Regions from separate parts of the Homo sapiens genome. Here regions 1 and 3 are each linked to region 2. Evidence: fine-mapped expression QTL. A gene starts in region 2. Each other region holds a variant in brackets. All regions are shown on one strand. Distances are between the middles of the regions.

Region 1 (2,759 bases), 100 kb before region 2:
TCCCCATCTGTAAAATGGGAGAATAATACTTGCCTACCTACCTCACAGGGGTGTTGTGAGGATTCATTTGTGATTTTTTTTTTTTTTGTACAGAGCTTTTAAGCATTAAAAACAGCTAAATGTGAGTGCACCTGGCTGCTAATATGTCTTTAGTGTCAGACAGACGTTCTAGAACTGGTACAACAGGCTGAGGTCCCTGCCCCTTCAGAGTAAGGGTGGGCAGGCAGAGTGAGTTGAGAGCACCTGTTCTTGGCACTTCCAGCTCTAGAGCAGGCGGGTTTTTGCAGACACGCATCCCCAGTTTTGCCTCACCCTCTTACACTGGATGTCAGGCTGAGCTCCTCCTTGAAGAAAGCAACGGAACCAGCGAATTCTCACTAACATATGAAGGATTGCTGCATCTAGGGAAACAGTATAGAGCAAAGTGGAATTGGGGGCCTGTGAAGGAGCCTGGATCTCAGCCTCCACTTTCTCCCCTAACCCCTGTGGGCCCCACCTGACCCCTTTGGGCCTCTGGTTGATTGAACACACCTCACCCCTGGTTGAGTGCTGGCATTTAAAGAGTCAGTGGGGAGGGTGGGGTAGAGACAGCACTGACTCCAGGCCTCTTCCCCCATGCTTGCAGGGTTAGGGGAACAAGGTTGTAGTTCCGAGGTCAGCTGGGGTGGGCAGAATGGAACCCAGAGCCCCCACCGCCCCTAGGGTTGGTGTTCTCCCCAGACTAGGAGAGAAGGCCCCGGGGGTTCTTTCCCAGCCCAGCAGGGTATGGAAGTTGTCTTCTCTAGGTGCAAGAATGCTCTGTGTGGCTTCTGGACACCAGTGTAGAGCTGTGTACACCGGGGTGGGGTGGAGGGGGGTGGGGGTGGGGGTGGCTCTGCCATTCTCTCCCTGGGATGTGGGGACACACAGGAGTGAGTGGGTGTGCCTGTGTGTGTTCCCAAGTTCCCCTGGGCCTGCTGTAGCCTGTGGGAGGACGCTTAGCAATGACATGAATGGCACTGACCCACATTTCAGTAGCTCCTGCTGGTCAGCAGCATCTCAGCCCTCATGGTAAATGAGTGAACCCAGCACAGCAAAGGAGCAATCAGCAGAGTTAGGGAGCCTACCGAATAGGAGACGGCATTTGCAAACCATCCATCTGATAAGGGGTTAGTATCCCAAATCCATAGGAAACCCAAACAATACAATAGTAAAAAGCAAGTAACTCAAAAGAACACACACAAATGACCCACAGGCATATGAAAGAAATGTCCGGTATCACTAATCACCAGGGAAAGGCAATGG[A/G]AACCACCTCACACCTGTTAGGATGGCTGCAGGAAGAGACAGAAGAGAAGTGCTGGCGAGGATGTGGAGACAGGAAACCCTCGCACCCTGTTGGTGGTATTGTCGGTTAGTATACACGTTCTGGAAAACACTGGGGTGGGGGGTCCTCAGAAAACCAAAAATAGGACTGTGTATGATCCAGCCATCCCACTCCTGGGTACACATGCAAAGGAAATGGAATCCGTGTGTCAGAGAGGTGTCTGCACCCCATGTTCACTGCAGCATTATTCACAGTAGCCAAGACATGGGATCAGTGTGTTCATCAGTGGATGAATGGATAAAGAAAATGTGGTCTGTATACAATGGGATACTATTCAGCCTTTAAAAAGGAAATCCTGGCCAGGCGCAATGGCTCACGCCTGTAATCCCAGCACTTTGGGAGGCCGAGGTGAGTGGATCACTTGAGGTCAGGAGTTCGAGACCAGCCTGCTCAACATGGTGAAACCTGAAACCCCGTCTCTACTTAAAATACAAAAATTAGCCAGATATGGTGGTAGGTGCCTGTAATCCCAGCTACTTGGGAGGCTGAGGCAGGAGAATCACTTGAACCTGGGATGTGGAGGTTGCAGTGAGCTGAGATCACGCCACTGCACTCCAGCCTGGGCCATGGAGCAAAACTCCATCTCAAAAAAAAAAAAAAAAAAAAAAATCCTGTCATTTGTGACAACATGAGTGAACCTGGGGAACACTATCCTGAGTGAAATAAGCCAGGCACAAAAAGACAAGTATCACATGATCTCATATGTGGAGTCTAAAAAAATCCAACTCAGAGTAACATGGTGGTTACCAGAGGCTGGGGTGGAATGGGGTGAGGTTGGGGAGATGTTGGTCAAAGTTCACAGCATTTCGGTTAGAGTAAGTTCAAGGGATCTATTGTATATCATGCTTACTACAGTTGATAACAATGTTGTGTATTTGAAAATTGCAGAGAGAAGATTTTAAGTGTTCTCGTAACTTGGTAGCTATGTGTCACCAAATGATAAGTATGTGAGGTAAGGTGTATGTTAAATATCTTGACTTAGCCACTTCACAACGTATATATACCTCAAGACATCCTTTTGTACACCGTAAACATATACAACTTAGCAGCTCATTTTAAGAAAGTACCATTTAGTCTGATCTTTCCTCTGTGTTAATCTAAACTAGTGATTTTTTTTTTTTTTCGATGAAATCTTTTTCTGTCGCCCAGGCTGGAGTCCAGTGGCGCGATCTTGGCTCGCTGCAACCTCCACCTCCTGGGTTCAAGCGATTCTCCGGCCTCAGCCTCCCAAGCAGCTGGGATTTTAGGCACGCATCACCACACCCAGCTAATTTTTGTATTTTTAATAGAGACAAGGTTTCGCCATGTTGGCCAGACTGGTCTCAAACTCCTGACCTCAGGTGATCCACCTGCTTTGGCCTCCCAAAGTGCTGGGATTACAGGTGTCAGCCACTGC
Region 2 (2,759 bases):
GAGATGGCCCCACAGCAGAAAAGGGGCAATCCTTACGCCATGACTTTTTCCTTCTGTCCCGCAGGGTTCCCACTCTGCAGCTTGGAAAACTGAGACCCTGAGAAGGGAAGCCATTTTATCCAGAGATCATTTGGTGGGCTTGGGTTTGCAGAGGGCCAGAGCTGTGAAGCTCCAGCCTGGTCATCTCCCAGCCTTCTCTCTCTCTCTCTCTTTCTCTCTCTCTCTCTTTCTCTCTCTCTCTTTCCTATCTCTCTCTCTCTTTCCTCTCTCTCTCTCTCTCTCTCTCACACACACACACACACACACACACACACACACACACACCCTCTAACTTTCTTGCTCTGTCATCCCTCACACACAGAATCCTGTCTGGACCTTGACTTTGCACATCATTTTTTTTTTTTTTTGAGACAGGGTATTGCTCTGTCACCCAGGCTGGGTACAGTGGTGTGAGCTGAAGCTCAGCTCACTGCAGCTTCAGCCTCTCAGGCTAAAGCAACCCTTCCGCCTCAGCCTCCCAAAGTGTTGGGACTATAGGCGTGAGCCACTGCACGCAGCCAACACACATCTTAAAAGACCAGAAAGAGGAGAAAGAGGAACTCTATTCTTCCTGAATTTAATATAGATCAATTTGGTTGTGGCATTTCCAAATAACTGGATGCTCTGATGTAGCTTGGAATGCTTGGAATATAATATACTTTAGCTTTCTGAACCTGCTTCTTAAATGCACTGGTCCTCCAAAACCTTGGCATCATTTCCAAGATTCTTTATTCCATGGTTATTACAAAAAAATCTCCTTTCCACAACTCCCACCCCTGGATTGCTTGAAATATAGTTTATTTGCAAGTTATTAGTTACATATTTACAGAGTAAAGCAAGAGCATGGATCTTCTGTTGGGTTGTTTGTACTGACTCCTGACCTGGTCTCAACACCATTGCAAGACTAGCATCAAGTGCTCATCTCTCAGACTCTTGGTTCTTTCCACCTTGGGATGCCACAGTTGCTACTGGTGTCAGGGATGGAAGTGGAGGGCAGTTATCACTTATTGAGCATCTATTATGTGCTGTAGTTAACACCCATTTCACAGATAAGACAACTGAGGCTCAGAGCTAGGATTTCAATCAGGGCTGTCTGACTCTGAAGCCAGGGCTCTCTCCTCACCGGCTCAGCCCTGCTCTTGGCTAGGACACAGGTCAGTCGTGCACCCTGGGCTGGAGTCTGGAAAATGGGTAGATCCAAGGGGTCGATGGTTAGTGAGGGCATCAAGACCATAGTGAAAGAAAGAGGGAGTCTCCCTCTACCGGGAGGTTCACTGTCCACCACACTCCCAAATGCAGCCGGACACCCCTTGGGCTCCTGGCTCTGGAACAGAAACAGAGAGCAGGCCCTGCGGCCAAGAAAGGGGGCGGAGCAGCCATAGAAAGCGGCTTTGGGCCACCACTCCGGGGATCCCAGGCGTCTGAGGGGACAATCGGTCCGTGCGCCAGGAACCCCTGCTCTGTCTCCGCGTGGCACTTCCGATCCCCGGCCGCAGGCAGCTGCACTCCCCAGCCGCGCGCCCCGCCCCCGGGCGCCCGGCGCCCCAGCTCCGACCCGCGCCCGGCCCCGCCCCGCCCAGTGTGCCCACCCCCGGCCCGTCCCGCCGCCCCGTCGCCCGGCTCCCGCGGAGTCCCGGAGCGTCACTGCGCGGGCGGGCTGACCGACCAGCCGGCAGTTGGCACCGGGTGCGCTGGCGCGTCAGTGGCCCCGCTCTCCAGCCGGCAGCCTCGCGCGCCCGGAGCCAGCGGTCCAGGCGGCGGCGCCGCGCAGGGGACCCGGAGCAGGCGGGAGGGAAGCAGCTAGGCGGGGAGGCGGCTGAGGCGGCAGCGGCGGCAGCCAGCCGGTGCTCCGACAGCCCGGGGCGCACCCTAGCCTCGCCGCCCTCAGCCTGGGACTTGGGGATCGGGCGCTTGCCCAGCCCGCGTCCCAGCGCGGCCACATGGCTCCACTCCGCGCGCTGCTGTCCTACCTGCTGCCTTTGCACTGTGCGCTCTGCGCCGCCGCGGGCAGCCGGACCCCAGGTGCGTGCGGGTTGGGCGCGCGGGGGCCCGTGGGGTCCGGGGTGCACGCGGTCAGGGTGGCCCAAGGTTGCCCCAGCCACCCGGGCAGGGTTCCCGCGGGTGGGAGGCAGTATGCACACTCTGGGCTGATTTGCTGTCTTTTCTTCCACTGTGCCACGGCACTGTCCCGTGATTTCTCTCCCTTTCTGGTACTAGAAGTAGACAGAGACCCCAGGAGAGAATTTGGGAGCATCGAGTCTCTTCTCGGGAGCAGCGCATCTGTCTCTTTGTCTCTCTGTGTTTCTTCTTTCCCCTCTTCCCCAATCTGTTTCTCTGTCCTGTGTGTCTTTCTCTTTCAATGTCTTTTCTGTCTCCAACTTGTGTGAGCATGGGTGCAAGGGGTGTGTGTGTGTGTGTGTCTGTGTGTGGCTGTTACATACCCAGCATAAGGCTAACAGGTGATTGCCTCCTACAGCAGAGCATGCGGGGCACTCACGCTCCTGCACAGAAACACACATCCTTCCACTGCCCCCAACGTAGCACTGTCAAACGCTGTGGACACAGGTCTCTTGCATACAGACCAGATACACTCCACTCCCGCCCTGCAGCATGGGGTACCCTCCTGGTGGCTCTGAACATGGGGAGGAGTCACCGGTCATTTCCAGGCAGGGTCCCTCCTTGTTTGTGAGCCTTGTTCATGTGCCAGAGTGGGTCCCCTC
Region 3 (2,759 bases), 71 kb after region 2:
GTGTACTTATGATGACAGTTTTCTGGCAGATGCAAGGAAAGTGTCTTGAGGAAGGGACACTTCACACACAGGTGTTGCCAAGGCCGGCAGCAGTGTTGGCTGTTAGGGTTGCCTGCCTTTCGTCTTCTGTCCCTACCTGCAGGGAGAAGAATTATATAGGTGCAGGCGCCCTTCCCGTTGCATGACCAGTGTCCTGAGGAGCTCAGTCCTATTACACGCTGTGTTTTTAGGTTTTACTGATTGGGTTGTGGTTTCAGCAGAGTCGATGAGATGATTTTGGAAGGCACGCAGATAGGATCTGGTGGGATCTTCATAACGACTCTCTAGGCTGCCCTGGGACATACACAGGACTTCTAGACTCCTGTAAAGAGTCTGAATTTGGGGACCATAGTGGTGCCAGTTCCCATCTATTTTTGAGTGTTTCCAGTGATGGCTCCATAGCGGCAGAGCATCCAGTGAAGGGTTGGGATTCGTGGCAAGTCAGAGCCTCGGCTGGAAGAGCCCTCAATGATCCTCTGATTCCAGCTTTCCCCTGCCAGCCTCTCCATGGGTCCTCCATGGACAGATGCTCATTCTCCATCACACAACTCTTGGCCCAGACAGCTCCCATCAGGACGGGCTTTCCTCCCTGGAGCCTGGGCTCCACCCCAGAACTGTCAGCTCTTCAGCTCTGGTCTAGAATGACAGACTCTTCAGGTTGGAAGGGACCTCAGAGGCCTGTCATTGCCAGATTCTTCCAGAGCATCCTTGCAGGGGGTGTCTTCTCTCTGCTTGGATTCCTCCTACTCTGGGGAGCTCACCACTCCCTTCGCACTGTTGCTGCCCAGAGAGCTTCCGTTGCTGCCCAGAGAGCTGCCTGCCTGGGTCAGGATCCTGCCTGTCCTGGGTTGGAGCTCCCCCAGACCCAGGTCCCTACAGGAATCTGGTTCCTGTGGATGAAATCCAAGGTGGTCTTGGAGGTTGTGGCTTCCGTTGCTGCCTAGAGAGCTGCCTGCCTGGGTCAGGATCCTGCCTGTCCTGGGTTGGAGCTCCCCCAGACCCAGGTCCCTACAGGAATCTGGTTCCTGTGGATGAAATCCAAGGTGGTCTTGGAGGTTGTGGCTCCAGACTTGAGTCCTTCATGCTGGAGACAAGGAGTTACCAGCTGTGCTGGAGCCCAGGGACCAGAGCAGAGCCCAAGAGTTTCCTTAGTAATTGGCTGAGGGAATCTTGGTTTGAAAGCCTTCCAGATCCATTCAGAAACCAAACCAGCAGCCACAGCGTTGGGGAGAGGAGGGGCTGGGAGGCCCGTGGGGCAGCTGGACTTTGGGTTTTTCCCAGGACTGTTAGACGAATTCCAGGAAGTTAGCTAAGCCCCCAACTTCCTTTTTTCTAAGAAGCACAGTAAGTGTTTATATATGCTCTGGAACCT[C/T]CTTTTTAGGATATCTATAGCCCACATAAAGAAGGAAACATTTAATTGTTAGGACCAGAAAGGACTCTCTTTCTCCCTGACTGTTGCTCCATTTTGCAAACCCAGATACAGACCACTTTTCTGCCTTTTTTTCACGCAGCCTTCTAATGTTTACAAACATGTTAAGACGCATGTCATACATGTGCACAGTGAAGTTTTGTAGGGGTCAGAGCAGGACTCAGGCAAGACTGCTAAGGTTAGAATCCAGGCTGAACCACTTATCGTGTGGTTGTGTGGACTTGAGCAAGTTCCTTAACCTCTCTGGTCCTCAATTTCCTCCTCTGTAATGCTAGCACCTACCTCATTGAGGTGTTGAGAGGGTTAAATGAGTTAATTCATGAAAAGCCATTAAAGCTGTATTTTAAGGGCATGTGAAGGTTTTAGAAATATCTAGTACATAGTAAGCATTCACTAAGCATTGGCTTATTATTACTTTATCACTTGATTTTTCTCAATAAGCCGATGTGGCATTTTACTGATTAGGGATAATAAAAATAGGGAACAAAGGCTGGGAGAGGTCAGAGCATTTACCCAAGGTCACATGGCTAATAAGTGACACAGCAGGGATTTTCAGCCCCCGTGCCACACCCAGTGCTCCCCCAACTGTCCAGAGCTGGCCCCGGAGCTTTCTGGCTGGACCACATACTGATCTGTCCTGGGCCACTTTCTCTGAGCCCAGCTGGGGACTCAGCATAGTCCCTCTCCCTACAGACGCCCAGAAGTGTGAGCTGATCTGCCAGTCGGCGGACACGGGGGACGTGGTGTTCATGAACCAGGTGGTTCACGATGGGACACGCTGCAGCTACCGGGACCCATACAGCGTCTGTGCGCGTGGCGAGTGTGTGGTGGGTGCACCCCCAGCCACCCCGACTACCGGCACAGGGAGACTGGAGGGCTGCACTGTAGCCCCTCCTGCCTGGGAAGATGAGCATTGCCTCACCGGCCCACTCGCAACACCCTGTTGGTCCTCAGCATAGCCCTGGGGTGCTGGAAGGGGCTAATTATTGCTCAGCCCCATTGGAGGGGAGAGGAGATGGCAAGAATCCTCATCACGCCGGGTGTAAGACCTCACCCAGGTCCCACGGTGAATTCGTGCCAGAATCCTGTCCAGGGACATCTCCCAGGCCAGAGGTCTTCTCCTGACCAGGGCCTGGGGATGGGAATGGGAGCCCCGGGGTGGCGGTGGGGGCAGGGGAGCCTCCTCCCACTGACCTCACCTCTGGCCTCAGCCTGTCGGCTGTGACAAGGAGGTGGGGTCCATGAAGGCGGATGACAAGTGTGGAGTCTGCGGGGGTGACAACTCCCACTG

What was found. PIP is the estimated chance that this variant, and not a neighbour inherited with it, causes the effect.
Region 1: its variant is fine-mapped to the expression of ADAMTS14 in cerebellar hemisphere (GTEx, PIP 0.93).
Region 3: its variant is fine-mapped to the expression of ADAMTS14 in monocytes after R848 (Quach 2016, PIP 0.95).

The regions. Positions count from the first base shown.
Region 1 is chr10:70,568,326-70,571,084 of GRCh38, forward strand. PALD1 (phosphatase domain containing paladin 1) reads left to right here. Exons shown (of 20, transcript NM_014431.3): 20 at 1-125. Among named protein-coding and RNA genes, the nearest start is that of PRF1, 33 kb to the right of the region's middle. The variant A/G (reference allele first, on the strand shown) is at 1,285.
Region 2 is chr10:70,670,824-70,673,582 of GRCh38, forward strand. ADAMTS14 (ADAM metallopeptidase with thrombospondin type 1 motif 14) reads left to right here and starts at 1,683. Exons shown (of 22, transcript NM_080722.4): 1 at 1,683-2,061. The coding sequence starts at 1,980. RefSeq lists a silencer at 270-564.
Region 3 is chr10:70,741,387-70,744,145 of GRCh38, forward strand. It overlaps ADAMTS14 (ADAM metallopeptidase with thrombospondin type 1 motif 14), which reads left to right. Exons shown (of 22, transcript NM_080722.4): 13 at 2,162-2,295; 14 at 2,680-2,759. Among named protein-coding and RNA genes, the nearest start is that of TBATA, 43 kb to the right of the region's middle. RefSeq lists enhancers at 1,147-1,441, 1,681-2,484. The variant C/T (reference allele first, on the strand shown) is at 1,412.